Homo sapiens: one gene and its partners. The protein of the gene in region 1 interacts with the protein of each later gene in a biochemical or structural test. Each region holds a gene or a part of one and is shown in the gene's direction. Other genes may lie near its edges. The genes, in order: MAP3K7, CYLD and SLC9A1.

Region 1 (3,653 bases):
TGTGACCAATTATTGCTAGTAGAGATTGGAAGTTCAATATCAATTTAGTGTAAAGTGAGAAAGTGAAATCCCACTTCTTTTTTTAGAGAGAAGATGAAATTCAATGAAGGACCTTAAGTTCCCCACCATACAAGGGCTTTAATTATTTGAATAACACAATCCTTGGACTTTTTTTCTGCTCCCAGAATACCACGCAACACTGATGTATTAAGCTTAATTCTAAAATACATATCAGATACAGGGTGCTGATATAATGAGATATATAATGTATCAGTGATTTAAGAAAGAATAATAGGAATGGAAATCTTAAATTGAAACTTTTTCAAGACACTTAAATTTTTCTAGTAAATCAGGAGGAAATCAGTCATTTTTAATCAGTTTTAGTTTTGTGGAAAGCAGTGTTTATGTGGGAGCGTAGTTTGAAACCACTGTTGGGGTGGGAGAAGAGTTGGTCAGAGAAATAACAAATTAAGTATATTTCTTGTTTAGCCACTTCAGAAAAACACACATTTATGTTAGTACTGTATATGAGCCTTAAGGGTAAGGGTAAGTGCCTTAAGTCTCTACTGTTTTTCTGTATTGCCCTGCAATATTTAATAAACATTACTTTTTCAATATGGAATTCATACTATACTATTTTAAATTGTTCTTTCTAATTCTCCATTTAGTATGAATAATAATGATAACTACCGTCATGTATTGAGTGCTTAATATACGCCAGGATTTGCATGGTGTTCCTCACATGCACTGGCTCATTTGGTCTGATTTCGCTAATTAGCTTTTGGAGTTTCTTGAGAGCACGTTCTCAGTGGCTTTAAAAAAACAAAAACAAAAGCAAAAAGAAAAAAAAACACCTGGATTATCAGTTGACAATAAATTAGAAGATTACTGAGCCAGCAACCCTTCTTGAGTTTTTTTGGATTGCATACAGTGCGTCTGCTGTCTTCCTGACTTGCCTTTATCCACACCACTCCTTCAAGGAGTTATTCGTCAGAAAAAGGCTGAAGAGCTCACTCATTTAGCTCTTTTTTTGTCTACTAACAGTGGGAAAGCAACTACTTCTGAAGTAGAAAAGTCTGTATTGCTTCAGAGTTACTCTGTTTACTTCTGGAACTGTTCTACATAACCATAAATGTTGAGAAGAGACTGTCCCACGCATCTCAGTCAAGTTGTATGGCAGTTTTACCTCTTTTGAAATATAAACAAAAGCATTCTATTCAAATAATTTTATAAAATTGACTGATTGTTTGAATTAATCAACTTAACTGTTTTCGGCATGACATTGAGCCACAGGTTTCAACCTCATTTTGGTTCCTTACTGTTCGTATTTGTAATATACTCTCATCACCAACATCTCGTTTTCTGCAGTGATTCTTACTGGGAAGGGCAGGATGAGTGGTGGAGGTCACATTATAATCTATATAAATTGAAAATGATCCACTGGAAGAGAATGTGTCTCTGCTTTCTCCCTTTCCCTGTTAAGGAACATTGATATTAGCGGAGTTGATATAGCCTTCTATAAAATAAACTTAGCATGATAAAGAAAAGAGATGGGGAGTTTGATTAGATAGGGTCAATTAAGACTGAATTTAAAATATAAAGGTCTCATCACTGTTTTTGTTTTTAATTAAGAGCTTAGAAGCTCTAATATATTGTGTTCTATTCAGTTTATAGCCAACTTAAATTATAGGTATGAGAATATAATTGCATTCTAATATCTGATAATTGAATATCCTTTTTTTAACCTTTAGAATTCAGAAATAGACTCTTCAATTACCAATAGCTGTAACTTTTAATTTACATATTATTTACTTTAGGGAAAAAAAGCATTTCATTCATGCTTTCTTGCTGTTCGTTTATAATTATTTGTGACAGAAAATCAATAAAATACATGCTTGAATTCCAGATACCAATGGATCAGATAACTCCATCCCAATGGCTTATCTTACACTGGATCACCAACTACAGGTAAAGGAGTACTTTCTTATTGAAAGTTGACTTTTTTCTTCTTAGAGAGTTTAAGTTGACAATTGTGTTGCTACCTGTCATTGTATAGTCACTCCTTAATTTATCCTTTTAGTTGGCCTCCTTAAACTTTTTAGAATCAAATCAAAATAATTCTTTTGGTTAAGTTAATCAAACTTTAAATTGGCAGAATCATATTCTTATCTTTTCAGTCATCTTAAAATCCTCCAGTATCTTTCTTTAGTACTGCTAAGCATTACATTTTCACTCTTTAATTTTAGTGCATTAAAACAAAACTCATAAGCTTATTTCTATTTAATACATTTGTGATACATTCTCATGTTCATAGTGACTGAAAATGTAAATAATATACTTCAGTGCCCCCTCATGAGTATGAGGGCTATAAACATCATTTAGTTTGAGCCTGTTTGCAGCCTGAAATGTCATACCAGAGACTACAACTCCAACAATCATGATTCTCTGTAACAGACTGTTAAAACAGCAAGAATAGATTTAAATGCTGAGTTAATTCTGACAAAAGGACACTGAGATTTTCTAGGGCATGGTTTAACACTTATTTTTAAAAGATCATTGCTTTAGTGCTATAAAAATATATCACAGTCTCTGTCTTGACTCTCATCTTAGCTAGATATTGAAATTTGATTTAATTATGTTTTAACATTCCTGATTATTTTCAGCCTCTAGCACCGTGCCCAAACTCCAAAGAATCTATGGCAGTGTTTGAACAGCATTGTAAAATGGCACAAGAATATATGAAAGTTCAAACAGAAATTGCATTGTTATTACAGAGAAAGTAAGTTATTTTTTATGAATAAAAATAAAAATACATTAGTATTTTGAGTTTAAAATATGATAAGGTGCAATGAAAACGTAGTTTTTAGAATTAGTCATTAAGTATACTTTCAACTTGTTTAAGCTTTAAGCACCCTTTTACTAAAAATTTTTTATGCAAAACTCAATCCTTTTGACTATCATATTAGTGCTATGGAAAATAAACTGGTGCTTTATACTTGTTGTTTTATGTTCTCAGAGCTGTTTAGACTTATTATTATAAAGATTTATTGTTTTCTTGTAAATAGATAAAATAATTTGATTTATTAACATTCAGTTGTGCCTTATCTTAGAAACATTTTTGTAGATACATTTTTTCCAGGTGTATGTTTAGAATTGGATTACTTATTAAAAGACTGTATTTCATAACTGAGTGTTTTTCTGAGGAGTTATAGAAACTGCCTTCCTCCCTTTTTAAAGAAACACAGCCTAATTTCCTTACTACTGCATTCACAGTTCTTAAATATGTATGTATCTTCAGTTTTCTTAAGCATGACCTCCATGAAATTTTATACTTAGGTAACTGAATTGTTGGTGGTAACTAAAATGAAGTGATAAGGAAAAAATTTTGGCAACTTTATATATGTATGATAATAGGATTCCCTTCATTAATTTTAATCTAAATAAATGAAAGTTGTTTTTTTCTGAATTTGCGAAAAGCTTTCTGTATGTACTTCAAAAAAAAGAGAGAAAAAATTGTTTTATCATAATTTATTGATACAGTGATTTAAATGGAACCAACCTGGTATTTGAAAGGTAAGCCTAAATAGGAAATTAAATACTACAGTTTGGAAATCGTAGAAGTAATTATCAAACTGCTGGCACTTTTATGTTGA
Region 2 (3,653 bases), on another chromosome or scaffold:
CCCAGCTAATTTTTGTATTTTTAACAGAGACAGGGTTTCACCATCTTGATCAGGCTGGTCTTGAACTCCTGACCTCGTGATCCACCAGCCTCGGCCTAATGACATTCTTTTCATGGTCCATTTTAGGTCCACCTTCATCCGAAGAGGCTGAATCATAAATATAACCCAGTGTCACTTCCCAAAGACTTACCCGACTGGGACTGGAGACACGGCTGCATCCCTTGCCAGAATATGGAGTTATTTGCTGTTCTCTGCATAGAAACAAGCCACTATGTTGCTTTTGTGAAGTATGGGAAGGACGATTCTGCCTGGCTCTTCTTTGACAGCATGGCCGATCGGGATGGTACTGAAAACGCCTTTCTTCTGCATGTGGCACAGGGTTCTGGTTTGTAGTGGGACAGTTTGTAGTGGGATCGCCTGTTCTGAGTGATATTTTCTGAGAAAATCCTTTCAGGATTATTCTGGTGACAACAGTCTTATATCTTGGATTGCATTAACAACCTTGCTAGCTGAACTAAGGAATAATATGCTGTGTTTTTTTTTTTCCTTTTTTGAGATGGAGTCTCACTCTGTCACCCAGGCTGGAGTGCAGCAGCGTGATCTTGGCTCATTGCAACCTCCACCTCTCAGGTTCAAGCAATCCTCCCACCTCAGCCTCCTGAGTAGCTGGGACTACACGCATATGCCACCATGCCTGGCTAATTTTTGTATTTTTAGTAGAGATGGGCTTCTGCCATGTTGCCCAAGCTGGTCTCAAATTCCTGGCCTCAAGTGATTAACCCTCCTTTTCCTCTCGATGTGCTGGGATTACAAGAGGAGCCAGTGCACCCAGCCTCATATTGTGATATTTTGACATGCATATGCTCTTTTTTTAAAAAAAAGAATCCTAAAATTCTTATTTCAGCCCTGAGGGATCTTATTTCCAGCTTCGCTGTCTTCTTTCAGGCCCCTCTCATTTTTGTAGGAGCCACGGTAGCTGTTTATTGAGCACCATTAAGTCATTCTACCTAAATCCTGGCAAGATGGGGATTATTCCTGTTTTTCTGTTATTAAAGCTGAGGTTTAAGGGGCTTGAGGTATTGTAGTTTGTGTTTAACTCAGTCTTTCTGATCTCAGTGCATATGTTTTTTTGTACTAAACCATGTTATCTTCCAATTGCCAAAAGCTGAGAGCAGAAGTAAACATCCTTTTCAGAAAAGTAAAGCCTCTTCTGCATGTAGTATCTTTCTCCCTGAAGTGGGGAATAGGCTGCAGTTGCCAGGCCACTTTCTAGGATGCTTAATCATTATTTAACTAATGCTTAATGAATGCCAGGCAGGATAGTGGGTTGTAGGTAAGAAATGTTTGTTAAAGCAGCCCTGCCTCTACCTATAAGGAGTTTGCAGGTTAAGACCAGGCCTGGGCAAGGTTGTGAGGTGTGACTCTCATGTTCCTCCATTCTTATACCCTATTTTTCCTTTAGCTGCTCTCTCAGATCCAGCCCCCACGGCCTTCTGGTGTGGCCCTCCAGTAGCCTAAGACATTCCCTGTGGCAGCCTCTTGAACAGAGGCCCAGGCCCTAGATCAAGAGTTCTCCACCTTTTCTCAGTTCTCTGATGCTTGAGGGATACATCCCAGCCCCATCTGTAGATGTGCCCCCAACCCAGTTAACATTTGCACTAAACAGCGTAACACAACAGCATAGGTTTGGAAAAGCCACTGAGGTAACCCAGAGGAGCCTTTCCTGGAATCTCTGAAATCACACCCCAGAGCACCTTCATCAGGGCCTGGTGATGTGTCAAACAAACTGTATTAGAGTTGCGTAAGGATGTGTTTAAAGTGTAGGGAGCTATAATAGCGTTCATTTGACTAGATCTATTCCAAATTGGACAGTCTTATGGTGAAGTGTGCTGGGTGGCTTGTGTCTGGGAGGAAATGAAATGTGAGGAACAGAGTGTCGTCTACATATGTATTGATAATATGATTCAGAGAGAAGTCTGGAAAGTAGGTTGGGGGCTTACCTCAGAATTCGTGTCCTTTTACCAGGTTTATTCACTGTTGGCCCCAGAATCCTTTCAGAAACCAAGAAATGAGAATATGTCAAGGGTTAAAGGAGGCTTTCACTTCCAGAAATCAGAAGTAAAATAAAGGCTTTTAGAGCCTGAAATTAGCTTTTTGGAAATGATAGGATTATAAAATCACTGGCAAAAGGGTTTAGAACTTGACTGCCCTATAAAGAGTTCTTCCTCTGTGCCATAGGTGGTCAGAATGGCTTCAACATTCCTCAAGTCACCCCATGCCCAGAAGTAGGAGAGTACTTGAAGATGTCTCTGGAAGACCTGCATTCCTTGGACTCCAGGAGAATCCAAGGCTGTGCACGAAGACTGCTTTGTGATGCATATATGTGCATGTACCAGAGTCCAACAATGAGTTTGTACAAATAACTGGGGTCATCGGGAAAGGCAAAGAAACTGAAGGCAGAGTCCTAACGTTGCATCTTATTCGAGCTGGCAGTTCTGTTCACGTCCATTGCCGGCAATGGATGTCTTTGTGGTGATGATCCTTCAGAAAAGGATGCCTCTGTTTAAAAACAAATTGCTTTTGTGTCCCTGAAGTATTTAATAAGAAGCATTTTGCACTCTAGAAAGTATGTTTGTGTTGGTTTTTTAAGAAGTCTAAATGAAGTTATTAATACCTGAAGCTTTAAGTTAAGTGCATTGATCATATGATATTTTTGGAAGCATACAATTTTAATTGTGGAAGTTTAAAGCCTCTTTTAGTCCATTGAGAATGTAAATAAATGTGTCTTCTTTATGGACCAAGGATATGAAATCATTTTTCTTTTGTAGCTAACGGTTGCCTTGAGGAAGAAATAATTTGGTTTTATTAAGAGTCTACTCTCAATCCAGTTATTAGAGATGTACTGAGTTTGATTTGTTAATCCTTTCTATATACTGCTGATCTTGCATGTCTACAATCTGCTCAGTTTTTCTGTGTTTCTGCAATAGTGGTCAGAAAAATACTTAAATTCCCTTAATGGTGTTGTTTTCTATTTGTTCTGGTTTTGAGATAAATGAGTGATTCTGTCCCCAAATGTCCATTTTTGAAGTGATTTTCCTGGAGGATTAGGGTATTTAGCAGTTGAAGCTCTTCATTCATAGTAGTTACTGTCAGCTAACAGGTTTTTTAAGGCTTTTAACTATTAATATTTTATGGAATGGGGCAAAGTAAATTGATGAAAGAATTGGAGTGATAATAGTCCTTTACAAACATACAGTCCATAAGAAAATGAATTTGGCATATAGAATTATTACAATTTCCTGGGAGAGATGGATATTTAAACCTCTATTATTTTAGACAAGACTGTCTAGAACTTAAGTTTGATCTGTCAGCCAGTACTCCCATTAAATTCAGTGTAGTTTCACTTGATAGAATCAGATATGTTATCGAAATGTTAGCAGCAGCTTCATCCTCCTTCTGATTAAAGTAAGTAGAAATGGGATGTTTTGTTTAATAACAGCCATAGTGTGTGTTTAGACCACAGCGGATGTTGTAGACCAGGACCATAGATGATACATGTCAGTGCTGTGGAATGTGCATTCTCTGAGTGTTGTTTTGTGGTATCATTGTCTTTCCTGAATGACTTTCTAACTGTGCAGAAAGGCAGAAAAGTC
Region 3 (3,653 bases), on another chromosome or scaffold:
CCCCTCCAGCACACTGCAGGTCTTTGGGGTCTGATGCCATTGTCTTGTCTCAGCTGCTTCTGCCTGGGTTGTCTGACTGATCTCGGTGGGTGCCAGGAAGAGAGAGAGGAACCTGGGAGATGACTGTGGATTGAAGGTTATGAGAGAGGGAAGCACCAGAAGATTCCTGCCCTAACCTGAGCAGACAGGTGGTGGTCAGGGAATGCTTCCTGAAGGAGGAGGCAGGCAGAGGATATGGTGTCAGCCACATATGGTGGGGGTAGAGGTAGAGGAATGATTTCTAGAGAGAGGAACTAGACTAGGTGAAGATTGGCAGGCAAAAGAGGATGTGGCTCATATGGGGCAATTGCAAGGAATTTGGCAAGGCTGAAACCTAAGAGTTGACAGTGGGGAGAATGGGACATGAGGCAAGAGCAGATGACAGAGGCAGTGCTGAAAATGTGGGCTTTATCCTCTACAGCAAGAGAGACTTGGGTCCAACATGACTAGCCCTTCCCAGTGGACCAGCCAGCTACACACTGGATGTTGACTGGTGGACAGTACAAAGACTGGGGGACTTTTCAGCAAAAGGGGTGATTTTGGAATTATTTTCCCTTTTATTGATGTGGGAAGTAGATGAACAAAAAGTGACTTTTGGTCATGTCTATTTTGAAATCAGGAGAATGCACATGGTGCCTTCGAGGTCCTCTTGGCCTAGGATGGAGACATCTTTTTTTCCCAATGTGTTTTGAGTGTCTTCAGGGTGCTTGGCACTGTGCCAGGATTCTGGGCCTGGATAGTGTTCAGTGTGTGAACTTTTTTTTTTCAAGATGGAGTCTTGCTCTGTTGCCCAGGCTGGAGTGCAGTGGAGTGATCTTGGCTGGAGCTCAGTGGCGTGATCTCGGCTCACTGCAACTTCTACCTCCTGTGTTCAAGCAATTCTCCTGTCTCAGCCTCCCAAGTAGCTGGGAATACAAGCACCCACCACCACGCCTGGCCAATTTTTATATTTTTAGTAGAGACAGGGTTTCACCATATTGGTCAGGCTGGTCTTGAATTCCTGACCTCAGGTGATCCACCCACCTCGGCCTCCCAAAGTGCTGGGATTACAGGCGTGAGCTACCGTGCCCAGCCAGCAGTGTGAACTTTGACTTGTCACCGTACTAGCACTGCCCAGATTCCTACCTGAGAGTAGGAAGGGCTTTGGGCATGGAGAGGGAAGTTCCTCCTCTGTCCCAAGGATCTCAAGAGTAAGTAATGAGAGCAGAGGCCTGGCCAGGCATGCAGGTTATCGGAAATCTTGGGTGATGTCCCAGCCCTGTGTATTTTCAAGTCAGCTGATATTTGTTGAGCACTTCTTGTGTCCTAGCCCTGGGTGTATAATGATAAGCAGTTATGGGATCTGCCTGCACAGAGCTTGCAAGATAGGGAAGGGGAGGAGAGAGAGCTTTGCTTTCTTCTTTCTTTTTTTTTTTTGAGGCTGGGCTCAAGTGATCTTCCTGCCTCGGCCCTCCTAACTAGCTGAGACTACAGGTGCATACCATGCCCAGCTATTTTTTTTAAGTGGAGATGAGGTCTCCTATGTTGTACAAGCTGGTGTCAAATTATTGGCCTCAAGTGTTCCTCCCACCTCAGCCTCCTAAAATGCTGGGATACAGGCATGAGCCACCATGCCAGGCCAGAGAGAGCTTTCCTCTTGAGCAAAGGGACAAACCCTCTTGGCTATGCCAACCCTGGGAGCATAGTACCCAACATACAACTAGATGCTCAGATTTTTTTCCACCTACTTTCCCACCCCAAAACAAAACAAACAAGTAAACCACTCACAGGAGCTCAGGGTTCTCTGGCCATACCTGATATTGAGAGAGGCCCTCTCAACGGGGATTTTTGCTACTCCTCAGCTCTGGGTTTGAAGCCTTAAGGTGGACTACAGCAGAGCGGCCTGTTGCTGGCCAGGACACGGCCTGGGGAGATGGCTGGTGGGTCCCAGGCAGAGGGGTGTGTGAGGAGGCCTTGATGGGAGGGAAGGATAGGAGAGCTTGAATTACAGAACTGTGCAGTTTGATGGGAACTGGGGCATCAGACCTGTGTTCTATTCTAGTTCTGCTCCCCACTTGCTGTGTGACTTTGGGCAAGTCCCTTCCCTTTTCTGAGCCTTAGTTGCCCCATCTTTAAAGTGGGTGGCATTGAGCTAGAAGCGGGATAGCAAATAGATTTTATCTCACCTGCCAAAGCTGGTTGCCACTGACATCCTTGAGCCGTGTCTTGAGCAGCTGCCTGGACTCAGTAGGAAAGCCTACTGTTTTGCAGGTTTGCAGACCCCAGGCCTTATTATCCCCAAGTTCCTTCCCACGCTGGTATTCTTAGATTCTTCTGTGCTTTCTTCTGTCTCCTATGCCACTCCCCACCAGCTGGTTGTCTGCCTTCTGCTTAAACAGCTCCGTGATAGGGAACTACCATCTTCCCTCAGACAGAATTGTTAGATTGTTATTCCTCAGGTTGAGCTCAGATCTGCCTCCCTGAACTTGTGCCTGGAATAATGCCTTGGGTTCAGGCGTAGGTGATGCCCGTAGGTACTTGGCACGTCAGTAATCAATTTATAATTTCTGCCTTCTGGAAGCATATAGAACTGCTGCTTTCTAACATTTTATGACAGTGACAGAGATAGCATGTATATATCCTTTGAAAAAAGTGCTTTAAAAACACTGTCACTTGGTTTATGATGGCAAACCTGTGAAGCTAGCATTGTCCCTTCCATTTTACAGGCGAGGAAGCGGAGGCTCAGAGAGTTAACAGAGCAGCCCTCTGAGACCCAGCCTGTGCACCTCTCACCAACTGCGCTCCTCATCCCCGGCCCATCCCCAACCTTCTATTCTCCTGGCTCCTCCGAAAGCCCATGGCCTCCCGTTCTCTCGCCCTCCGCAGGTTTCCATGTGATCCCCACTATCTCAAGCATCGTCCCGGAGAGCTGCCTGCTGATCGTGGTGGGGCTGCTGGTGGGGGGCCTGATCAAGGGTGTAGGCGAGACACCCCCCTTCCTGCAGTCCGACGTCTTCTTCCTCTTCCTGCTGCCGCCCATCATCCTGGATGCGGGCTACTTCCTGCCACTGCGGCAGTTCACAGAAAACCTGGGCACCATCCTGATCTTTGCCGTGGTGGGCACGCTGTGGAACGCCTTCTTCCTGGGCGGCCTCATGTACGCCGTGTGCCTGGTGGGCGGTGAGCAGATCAACAACATCGGCCTCCTGGACAACCTGCTCTTCGGCAGCATCATCTCGGCCGTGGACCCCGTGGCGGTTCTGGCTGTCTTTGAGGAAATTCACATCAATGAGCTGCTGCACATCCTTGTTTTTGGGGAGTCCTTGCTCAATGACGCCGTCACTGTGGTGAGGAGGCCAGGGGCCATGCCCATGTCCAAACGGTACAAACCCAAATCCAGGCCCACCAGTGAATCCCTCATCCACCCGCTAATAACAGTAATAAAAACAGCTGAGGCACATTCCCGCTTCCCGTATGCCAGGCACCATGCTGAGCCCTTCGGCATGGATTATCTCATTTAAGTCCTCATGGCTGCCTTAAGAGGTGCTTATTATTCTCATTTTCCAGGGGAGACACAGGCCCAAAGAAGTTAAATAACCTGTTGGAGTATGAACCAGTTTGTGATTGAACCAGGT

Evidence for each region.
Region 2: the proteins of MAP3K7 (region 1) and CYLD form a complex in vitro, tested with the Homo sapiens proteins (one study listed by BioGRID).
Region 3: the proteins of MAP3K7 (region 1) and SLC9A1 form a complex in vitro, tested with the Homo sapiens proteins (one large-scale study listed by IntAct).

What each region holds. Positions count from the first base shown.
Region 1 is NC_000006.12:90,517,573-90,521,225, reverse strand, and holds part of MAP3K7 (mitogen-activated protein kinase kinase kinase 7), read left to right. Parts: intron 1-1,906; coding exon 1,907-1,968; intron 1,969-2,663; coding exon 2,664-2,779; intron 2,780-3,653. UniProt on the Homo sapiens protein: Serine/threonine kinase which acts as an essential component of the MAP kinase signal transduction pathway. Plays an important role in the cascades of cellular responses evoked by changes in the environment.
Region 2 is NC_000016.10:50,794,086-50,797,738, forward strand, and holds part of CYLD (ubiquitin carboxyl-terminal hydrolase CYLD), read left to right. Parts: intron 1-126; coding exon 127-343; intron 344-2,238; coding exon 2,239-2,423; 3' UTR 2,424-3,653. UniProt on the Homo sapiens protein: Deubiquitinase that specifically cleaves 'Lys-63'- and linear 'Met-1'-linked polyubiquitin chains and is involved in NF-kappa-B activation and TNF-alpha-induced necroptosis.
Region 3 is NC_000001.11:27,113,538-27,117,190, reverse strand, and holds part of SLC9A1 (sodium/hydrogen exchanger 1), read left to right. Parts: intron 1-2,904; coding exon 2,905-3,365; intron 3,366-3,653. UniProt on the Homo sapiens protein: Electroneutral Na(+) /H(+) antiporter that extrudes Na(+) in exchange for external protons driven by the inward sodium ion chemical gradient, protecting cells from acidification that occurs from metabolism.